2 separate regions of the Homo sapiens genome follow, and region 2 is linked to region 1. Evidence: fine-mapped expression QTL. A gene starts in region 1. The other region holds a variant in brackets. All regions are shown on one strand. Distances are from middle to middle. Region 1 holds the start of TPRG1L (tumor protein p63 regulated 1 like). Region 2 overlaps WRAP73 (WD repeat containing, antisense to TP73).

Region 1 (5,374 bases):
CACCCAGATCACCATCAGGAGGCCACATTATGGAGCTATGCTAACCAGCAGCCACTGGCCACATGCGGCTACTTTAACATAAATTAACCAGAATTTCTGACAACTTAGGGAATCAACTCTAAAATGAGAGCTTCCTCTCTCATTTCTAGCCACGTCTCAAGTGCTCGGCAGCTCCGCGTGGCCGCCGGACAGTGCAGACCTGAAGTGTCTCCGTGACTGCGGGGGGTGTTTCCATCACTGCGGGGGGCGCGGCTATTTATGTGCCTGTCTTCTTACCTGACACAGAGATGCTGTCTTCTCATCTGCGCCAGCCATCGGGTGTTCTGTGAAAGTGGCATAGGGCACGTTGGTAGACCAGGGATTCCATCTGTTTATGAAGGAAGGACGACTTTGCTTGTCCCACTGAATTCGAATCCCAAAACCTTCTCGCCTGAAAAGTCAGAAGAAATAGCCAGACTTAGCATGGCAGGCCACAGTGCTCTCATGGACAATCTGACAGTCTCATCAGTTAGGAGAATATGACAGCAAAAAGCACACGTTTACAGAAAAGACCTATGACATATCACAATGGAAAACGGCTTGTAGTTTTTATTTTTGTTTTTATTTATTTTTATTTTTTGAGATGGAGTTTTGCTCTTGTTGCCCAGGCTTGAGTGTAGTGGCCTGATGTTGGCTCGCTGCATCCTCCACCTCCTGGGTTCAAGCGATTCTCCCAACTCAGCCTCCGGAGTAGCTGGGATTACAGGCATGCACCACCACACCCAGCTAATTTTGTATTTTTAGTAGAGACAGGGTTTATCCATTTTGGTCAGGCTGGTCTCAAACTCCTGACCTCAGGTGATCCGCCCGCCTCAGCCTCCCAAGGTGCTGGGATTACAGGCGTGAGCCACCGTGCCTGGCCGGCCTGTGGTTTTTAGTAGTAACTTCAATCTCCACTAACAATTGCTTTAAATACTGTGGGTATAAATATGACAAATTAGGTATATTTTGGTTATTAAATGTATTATTTTGGTAATCTTTACATGATTAAAAATTAATAAACAGGAATACTGGCTGGGCACGGTGGCTGACATCTATAATCCCAGCGCTTTGGGAGGCCAAAATGGGCGGATCTCTTGAGCCCAGGAGTTTGAGAACAGCCTGGGCAACCTAGCAAAACCCCATCTCTACAAAAAATACAAAAATTAGCTGGGTGTGGTGGCGGGCACCTGTAGTCCTAGCTACTTGGGAGGCTGAGGTGAGAGGATCACTTAAGCCTAGGAGGTGGAGGATGCAGTGAACCAAGACTGCACCACTGGTGCCTGGGTGACAGAGTGGGACTCCGTCTCAAAAAAAAAAAAAAAAGGGAATAATTATAGATAGGCTAGCCAAATGAGTGAAAAGGAAGTGTAATCTTCCTTTTCCTTATGTCATATTAAATGTTTTAACCAAAAGGTAAAATTTTTATTTTAGCTTCCTGAATCCCCCATCCAAATCTCTCCATCAAAAACCCAAGTTCTACAGCTTAACTGACTGTAGTAATGTTTAGGTTCCTCACGTCAGAAAATTATCCTACAGCAAAAAGATCAACTCCTGAAAGCTGGTCATTAAATATTTCCAAATTTGTCTTTTAGTGGTATCTATAAATTACAACGGGACCCTCCATTTCTCTTTAAAAAATTAGCCAGAGCAAGACTTGATGTGTCATATGCAATCTGTCCCTGGCTGGAGAAAAATGCAGAGTTTGGACTTTTCCTGAAGAACATCCAAGTTCCTTTTTAACACGCTGGGCTCTACTTCAATGCATCCTGAACTCATGTAAGTCTTTTTACTACCAGCCTAATAGCTGCCTTCTGTGCCAGAATTCCTTTTAATGCACTCAATTGCCCAGAAGTCGCTTCTTTTTAAGGAACTTCCCATTGATATTTGGAGCTGGAGCCTTTGTGCTTATAATTAATGACAGAGAAGACACACCGCTTGGGGGGCTGATTTAAAAGGGCTGAATTGTAAGGTCCACTCTGGTGCTTAGGTCCAGTGATACTGGACTCTGAACAGGCTTACTTGTTGAGCGATTTAGGGGGAAACTGGAATTCTCCGTAGGAAATGGTGTCTACTGCGTTGAGCGCTATCCGCACCACCTGCTGGCACTGGAGACTGATGAAGTCGTATTTACAGATAAGCAGGGACTGCTCCGTGACCAGCACCAGCCGCTCCTTCTCATTGTTCCAGTGATCCACCCTGTAGGCAGAGGAGGGGCCTCAGTCCACACTGGACGCGGCTGTCTCGACTTAGCCAAGGCCAGCCCGCCTGGAAGGGCAGCAGGGGCGGCACGGGGCGCCTGAGCGTGGCACGAGCACCCCGGGAAGTCCTCGCAAGGTGCTGCGCGGCGGCTCGGGGCGAGTCCCCCCACCAAGGAGAGCGCAGCCCCGGCTTACTCGGTAAGCAGCCACACTCCCTGGATCTCGCCGTCCTCCACGGGCCGCACCACCACGCGGATCTCCTCCACTGCCTGCTCGATGCTGCCGGGCTGGGCGGGTTGCGGGGTGGGGGACGGGGGCAAAGATCACAGGTCACAGCTCGCTCCCTGCGGGACCGCCCGGCGCCCGCCTCCGACCCCACCCGCCCCCATCCCGCCCCGCGCCCTCGGCCCCCGCCCCGGCCCTGGCCCCTGCCTCACCCGGAACACGAAGTACTCCTTGACGCGGGCGCGGCGCGTGGGGTCGTGGATGCTGAGAGGCCAGAGTGTCTGGCGCAGCGGCGTCCCCGCCCCCGGCCGCCCCCCGCCCGGGCCGCCGCCTGCCCCCACCTCCTCGCCGGCCGCCAGCACCGCCGTGGGGCTCGTACCGGCCGAGTCCACCGAGTCCCGCAGTTGCAGCATTGCCGCACCCCTTACCGACCCCGACCCTGACGCCGACGCGACCGCCGTCGCCGCAGCCACCGCCACCACCCGGCCGCGCCCCCGGCCCCGCCCCGCGGACCGCCGCGATTGGCTCCGCCTTGCCGGCCCCGCCTCTGGCTCCGCCCCTTCCCGCGTCCGCCGACCCTCGGGATTGGCTCTCCTCCTGCCGTTTTCCGCGATTGGCTCTGCCCCGCCGCCGTTCACAATCGCTCCCGCCCCTCGCCGGGCCGGAAGCGACCGTCACGCGCAGGCTCACTTCCTGTTTACACAACGAGAAGGGGCGGGGCCGAAGCCGGTTGCCAGGGTGTCGCGGAGCGGCTGGGAAGGAGGGGCTGGGAATCTTGGAGCCCCTTGGCCCGCGGGGAAAGCGGGTGACCCGCCCTGCAAGTGGGATGCCCCCTTCGGCCTTCTGGAGCGCAGGTGGGGGCGCGCGCCCATCGGGGGCTCGCACTGCACGGAGGGTCGCGGTGCCGGGGAGCTGAGGTTGGAGGATGCAGGGCGGCGGCCCTGGTGCACCGTGGGGGAGTTCGCACGCCGGGCAGCGATCTTCTGCCGGGACCTGGCGTTCTTCACACACGGCTTATTCGTGACGGATCCACAGAGCAATGCACTCTGAAGCCGGAGGGTAGAAAGTGCTGGAATGCGCGCCCGGGCCCAGGCTGTCGCGAGCCTTCAGCAAGCCAGTGCACACAGAGAGGGCTGCCCAGAGATCCCGGTCAGCGCTCGCAGTTCGAGGTGGAACATGTGTGTGCCCTGCGCTAGCCCCAGCTCCCGGAGGTGCCCCCAGCGCGTGTGGAGGGGGGCGGTGAACGGACCCGCAATCTGGTGGAGGCTGCGGGAAGGAGGCGCAGAGTCCAGGGGTCAGGGTTACCTTCGGGCAGGAGGACAGATCCCTCTGCTCGGAGGTGAGGAAGACACACGAGGCGAGGTGCACACAGGCGAGGAGAGTGAGATGGGGGGAGAATGAGGAGTTCAGGATACATCTGTTTACTTCAGTCAGGGAGTGGGGATGGAGCGGAGTATTTGTAAAGATGGACGGTTTAGAATCGCCGGGATGAGAACCGGGCAGGGAGCTGATCAGGGAAGGGCATGGGGATCTCTGAGCAGCTGGGAGACCCCAGGGAAGTTTGCAGTGGCGCCTCCCACGCGGCAGCTGGGGGAGTGGAAGAAACCAATGCTGGCTGGTCTAGATGGAGGAGTTTGCTGGGTAGCGGTGGTCAAAGACCAGAGAGAAAAGGGAGGCCAAAATCCTAGAGGGAGTGTTGCCCAAGAATGGTGGAGTGCAGGGATTCTGCCCCACTTGCCAGCAGACAGGCCAGGCTGCCAAAGTTGCATGGGCGCTGGCAGAAAGACCCAATACCCCTGGAGTCAGAGAGGAAAGACTACAACAGGAAACGGGCGACGCTGGTGTGCCCAGACGCATGTTGCACCACAGCGGGTGCACTACAAAACAGGACCCTGGATCCTGTGGACCAATGTGGTCTTTGTCCCACAGGGAGGCTGTCTCCCCGGCAAGGGTGCCCACTGCAAGCACAGGCGTGAGAAATGGCCCAGAAAAGAGTGGTCAGGGCAATGTGTTCTTGGCACGCCCAGCAAGACCTGCCAGAGGGACCTACAGACGAGTGTCTCCCAGCTATCTTACCAGCGGGGACCTTGAGGTCCAAGTATCCAGTCCGGTTAGAAATGGCCGCGGATCCAACAGGTGCTGGTGAGTGGGAGAATACCCCTGAGGGAGGAAGAACAGAGGCCGGGAGGGAGCTGAGTGGATGTAGATGAGAAATACCTGGACAGCTGCAAGCTGTAGTCAGTGATGGGCAACTGGAACCAGAGATTCCAGAGAGAGGGAGGGAGAAAGAGGGAGGAGAAGGGAGAATGAGAAAGAGAGGGAGAGAGAATGGGGGGGAGAAAGAGGGAGAATGGGGGAGAGAGGTAGGAGCAAGTTCTGGACCACGCCAAGGATGGAGCTGTGGTCCTGGAACCAGATGTCCAGGGAATGGGATGAAGTGACACTGGCTGGGGCCGAGGCTGCAGACTGCTGGTGGGAGCTGGCAGGACAATGAGGATTCTGAACCAGGTGCCTGAGCCTTCTGTGGATATGGGGAGTGACTTGGATGTCTATAAATTCCAGAAATGATAGGAGGGATAGATGATGGAGGGACTGTATTTTAGACAATAAACAAATTTCACTCAGTATGGATGAGTTTCCTGGGGCTTCTGTCACAATGCATCACAAACTGGTTTTAAAAACAACAACTGTTTTAAAAACAACAGAAACGTGTTTCCTCATAGCCCTGGAGGCCAGAAGTGCAAAATCAAGGAGTGTGCAGGGCCATGCTCCCTCTGCAGCCCTGAGGGTTGACGCATGTCTTGCTCTGCCAGGCCTGCTTGGTGTCCTGGGCTTGCTCATGCACTGCTCCCATCCCTGCCTCCATCTTCACACGACCTTCTCCAGGTGGGTCTCTTCTGCAACATCCCTGTTGGATTAGGGACCACCCT
Region 2 (5,374 bases), 21 kb before region 1:
CTGGGATTTGAGGTCTTCGTTCCATGGGTGGCAGAAGGGTGCTTAAATCACAGAGCTATAACTTTAAGCTTCAAAACATATAGTGTATGTACCTGGATGCCTAGTAGTGTATATCCTCAGAAGAGAGGGATAACCCGGATGCCTAGTATGTATGTCCTCAGAAGAGGGGGACAATTGGCATTGGAAAGCCACTAAGAAGAAACATGCCTCGTAAAAAGTGGGCTTCGTTTTCCTTATCCACCACCTGTACTAACTGACTGATGTATCATGATGCTTTTTCAGGTTTTGCCACTCCTGACATTCCTGTGCTCTGTCTAGCTTTTGAGAGTTTAACTCTCAAATTACGTTTTTTACCTCTTCAGGGAGGTTTTATTCCAAATCACATAAAATAGCATCAGCTACAAAACAGAAAACCTCATTAGTTTAAATGGCATCTCAGCCTTGGTATATTTTCAATGTGCCCCCCTCCTCAATTAAATGAGAGGTTTGTTTTTTGTTTTTACCATTTATGAAAATTTCAGTGAATTATAAGGAGAAAGATTACATCTGCTTGCTTAACTTGGGTGTTTTTTTCCAGCTTGTACACTCTGGTCAAAATACCCTGAAACACTTGGTAATGATCTGTTACTGGAATCATCTTCTTGAAAGCCCTGAGGACTGGGGAGAGCAGGTCCATGTTTCTAGTTTTCATATCTTGCAGTAGAGTTTATGTGGTTCCTCAAGGTGTTGGTAAAAATATTCCATTTCATAAGGAATTCACTGTAACTGATCACAGTTTTCAAAGCTACAGTGTGAGAAAGTAAGTGCTGTGGTAGCTCCTTGTTCCAATCTGCCGTCACCCGCCTGTCTCTCTTTTCTCCCACGGAAAACTAACGTGGCTTTCTTTTTTGATATCGGTTCATAAAACACAAACTACTTTGACCTTGATAAGTAAAACTAACGAAGCAGTTAATATTTAAACATCAGTTCTTGATCTTGAAACTGTAGTAAAATATACATTCAGCAGGTGAGTACTCAGGCGTTATTTTTACTTGAAATTGTTTGCTTGGATAGGGACATAATGAACAAATATGGACAAGAAGAAACTATCTTTAAGAAAATAGTACTAACACTTAAACATTTCCCGTTTCGTGTTAGGAATAGGTTAATGGAGATAAATGAGCATTTGCGAAGCATCTTTATGTGTGCAGAAGTGAAAGCCTGTCTTTTGATCTTCTGTTGTTTTGGCTCTGAGTTCGGCACTGCATAAGAAGATTGATGCATTCCTTGCCATTTTCGTTGTCATCTGTGAAGCCTCAATTCTTACCCTTTATAAATTTGAGGAAATTGTCCAAAAGTGTTTATAAAACTAGCAGAGGATTTTGGTTATTAGTTCACAGAAGAGCTTTCTCCCAATGCTACTTCCCATTTAAGTTTAGTTTTTAACATACAGATAAGAAGGGACTTAAAAATGTCTTAAAGCTTTAAGTAGCGAGTTAAAACATACTTTTATACTTTACAATAGAGTATAGCAATATTAAAACCTGGCTTGTATATTTCAACATTACCCTTGTATGAACTGAACTGATCTTTAGGGGCTGGGGATGTCACTGGTGATCTAGACATGAAACCTCTGGCAGGAGAGAAGGCCACAGTCACTGAAGGCCAGGGCAGTAGCATTCCGAAGGCCCCCCTCTTTTGGAGTGGAGAATGTCAGGTGCTTGCTTTCTCATATTTTTTAGGCTTCCTGTGTCCAGTACCGGTTAGTGGTCCGGGATGTGAACACCCTTCAGATCCTTCAGCTGTACACGTGCCTAGACCAGATCCAGCACATCGAGTGGTCGGCAGACTCGCTCTTCATCCTGTGCGCCATGTACAAGCGAGGGCTGGTGCAGGTGTGTGCTGCCGTGTCGCTTAGAATCTGGACACCTTCTGAGGGCCCCTGGGAAGGAGGGGTTTTGTTCTGTGCCTTTCTAGTTTGAAAAAAAAGTCCGTGCAGCTCAAAGCCAGTTTTCTTTTGAAATTATAACGTTCTCTAAAGTTTAAGAACATTTAAACTAAGGAAACTCCAACGTAGTCTTAATTTCTAAGCAATATAGTTGAGAAACGGAGGTGTTGACAGCAATCTAGCCACGCGGATGTGGTGTGTTTCAGGAAGTCCTAAGAAGTCGTGTTTTCTTCTGTGTCCAAAGCTTAACTAAATGAGGTCTTAGGAATGACAATGTGAATAAACAGTTTTAAAACAACAACGAAATGAAATCACCAAGAAGCGTGGCTTACTTTTACACTGGAATCCAGCACCAGCCCTTCATCATGAAAGGTTCTAAAAGACACCCTGTGTGATCGGGTCTCTGCTGGTTTTAAGGGAGTTGTCTCTCGGCGAGGCCTCGCTATAGACTGCTGATGAGTTTGAAGACACCCTGTGCGGTCGGGTCTCC[G/A]CTGCGTTTAAGCGAGCTGTCCTCGCTGTCTCTCGGTGCTGATGAGTTTGCACTTGTGTGTTTCTTTCTTCTCTCAATCCAGGTCTGGTCTTTAGAGCAGCCCGAATGGCACTGCAAAATAGACGAGGGCTCAGCCGGGCTGGTGGCCTCGTGCTGGAGCCCGGACGGGCGCCACATTCTCAACACCACGGAATTCCATGTAAGTGTCAGCCCCAAGACACCTTACTGGCCATGTGATCCTGTCCTCTGCTCTCGAAACAGCTGGGGAGTGCGAGAGGGGGTGTGTTTGGAGTATGCTAGTCTCCCCTTATCCTCAGGGGATGCATTCTAAGACCACCAGGGGATTCAGATTGTACCAAACCCTGTATTTCCTGTGTTTTTTCCTATACAGCATACCTGTGATACATTTAATTTATAAATTAGATACAGTAAGAGATTAGCAACAATCATAGTATAGAACAAGGATAACAATATACTGTTTATAATTGCATGGATAGAAGATTTGGTCTTACTGAAGATCTGAGCAACAACCTCAGCATAGGATTTTTTCTTTCCTTGTTGCGTCAAGAACTTTCAGCTCGTCATTTAAAGGAAGCACTTTGTGGCTTCTCTTTGGCGTATCCAGATTGCGAGCCCCACCGCCCGTGCTTTGGGCTGCTACTGAGTCAGATAAGGGTGTCGTGAACACAGGCACTGTCTGCTGCCCTGGGTCTGATGACTGAGGTGGCTCCCGAGTGGCTGGTAGATTGGCGGGGTTGGAGGGAGCCGGGGAGCGTATATAGTGGTGTGTATATTTTAGGTCAGAGCATTATAAGCCACTAAGTATTATTGTCTGATCTTTTGTCCAGTTTTGAAGAAAAAACATTTTAAAAATCTTAATTTAGATTTTTTAGGATTTCGGCACTCCCTTTAATTCAACGATAGAAAATGCGCTGTGATATGAGCCGGCTCGCACCTTTCCTTCAGGAGCCTGGCCTGGGGGCGTGGCTCGGGGCGGTCGGCAGCCGCCCATTCACCTGCTGTAGGTACCGCACAACAGCCTCCGTGCTGAGCTCAGCGCGGAGGGGAATGTTGACATCCGAGAATAAATCAGAGGGATCTGGGATAGGAGACTGCATTTTAAGTTAAAATTAGGCATATGTCAAGTGTTTAGATACCAGGTCTTTGGTGTCCGCAGTGTCTTTTTAAGATACAGAAAAATGGACGAATTCCTTTAATAATGTGCTTTTCTGATGGAGTTGGATCCCAGTGTTTGGGCCCAAGTCCACTGAGTGCTCATAGCTGTCTGGGCTGCTGGCTGCACCTCGGTAACCCGCCCATCCCGCTGCGCCGCGCACACCACGGGGCAACCCGCCCATCCCGCTGCGCCGCGCACACCACGGGGCAACCCGCCCGTCCCGCTGCACGGCGCACACCACGGGGCAACCCGCCCGTCCCGCTGCGCCGCGCACACCACGGGGCAACCCGCCCGTCCCGCTGCGCCACGCACACCACGGGGCAACCCGCCCATCCCGCTGCGCCGCTCACACCACACTGCAGCCCTCCCGTCCCGCTGCGCCGCGCACACCACGTAGATGATGGCACCTGGGAGGATTTCTCCCAGCGTGTGGCTGCAGATGCTCTGTAGGGTTTCATTCGGCTTTTTTCAAGCTGGCATCGGCTGGGATAAAGTTTTATCCAGCCATGAGGGTTGCTGAATCAACTGCTTCAGATGGCTGGATGGCTTTACATATTTTTCAGTTTCGATTTTAAAAAATACTCCAAATCTAATGTCTGCTATTATGGGCTGTCAGAGAATAAGACAGGAAACAAAGGCCCACCAATGTCTCCGCACTATGTATTGACATTGGAAGGCACTTTCGGCCTGAGTGTTTCAGAGAGGATAATTTGAGCTTTTCACGCAGCCGTGTCTAACAGTCTTCAGGCCTGTAATGCTTTGGGCCCAAATCTGCCCTTGAGAAGGGCTCATGTCATGGGGTCAGCCTTGTTGTATTATCTTATTAAATGGCCCAGAAGGAAAACTACCATCTATAGAGTTTAGAAACCTTAAAAGATGGATAAAAGCCTGGTTTTGTTGAGCATCCCATGTCACACACACCAATATTGAAAACACCTTTGCTACAGAACAAACTGATTTTTCATAGAGTACATTTAGATGACATTGTTCAACCTAAGACTAAGGTCATGACCACTTTGCTGGTGGCCTTAGAGGAAACGTTAAGACCAGGTGGTGGATGAGGACCGGTAACCTCAAGGCATGGGGCATCTTGACCAAGATGTCAAAATGTGTCTCCAGCTTTGCATGCGAACTTTAATGGTTGCAAGTGAGGAAACAAAACCGGAATTCCAGACGTGCTGGCCAGGAAGTGAGCTGCGGGCACCGTCCATCAGTCTCATTCACAAGAGCAAGGACCAGACCCGTTCGAGGATTAGCGGGGCCACTAGGTCCCCTTCTGAAGGCGCGACCCCATGTCCGGGGCTCAGCGGGGCCACTGGATCCCCTTCCGAAGGCGCGACCCCATGTCCGGGGCTCAGCGGGGCCGCTGGGTCCCCTTCCGAAGGCGCGACCCCATGTCCGGGGCTCAGCGGGGCCGCTGGGTCCCCTTCCGAAGGCGCGACCCCATGTCCGGGGCTCAGCGGGGCCGCTGGGTCCCCTTCCGAAGGCGCGACCCCATGTCCGGGGCTCAGCGGGGCCGCTGGGTCCCCTTCCGAAGGCGCGACCCCATGTCCGGGGCTCAGCGGGGCCGCTGGGTCCCCTTCCGAAGGCGCGACCCCATGTCCGGGGCTCAGCGGGGCCGCTGGGTCCCCTTCCGAAGGCGCGACCCCATGTCCGGGGCTCAGCGGGGCCGCTGGGTCCCCTTCCGAAGGCGCGACCCCATGTCCGGGGCTCAGCGGGGCCGCTGGGTCCCCTTCCGAAGGCGCGACCCCATGTCCGGGGCTCAGCGGGGCCGCTGGGT

The links. PIP is the estimated chance that this variant, and not a neighbour inherited with it, causes the effect.
Region 2: its variant is the best candidate, but not a certain one, in a credible set for the expression of TPRG1L in whole blood (TOPMed, PIP 0.51).

Annotation. Positions count from the first base shown.
Region 1 is chr1:3,622,556-3,627,929 of GRCh38, reverse strand. TPRG1L (tumor protein p63 regulated 1 like) reads right to left here and starts at 2,915. Exons shown (of 5, transcript NM_182752.4): 1 at 2,657-2,915; 2 at 2,415-2,506; 3 at 2,041-2,217; 4 at 277-430. The coding sequence starts at 2,857. It also overlaps a transcript of MEGF6 not described here. RefSeq lists enhancers at 1,879-2,541, 3,522-3,641 and a silencer at 2,842-3,071.
Region 2 is chr1:3,643,908-3,649,281 of GRCh38, reverse strand. It overlaps WRAP73 (WD repeat containing, antisense to TP73), which reads left to right. Exons shown (of 12, transcript NM_017818.4): 2 at 1,722-1,874; 3 at 2,500-2,616. Among named protein-coding and RNA genes, the nearest start is that of WRAP73, 3.5 kb to the left of the region's middle. The variant G/A (reference allele first, on the strand shown) is at 2,418.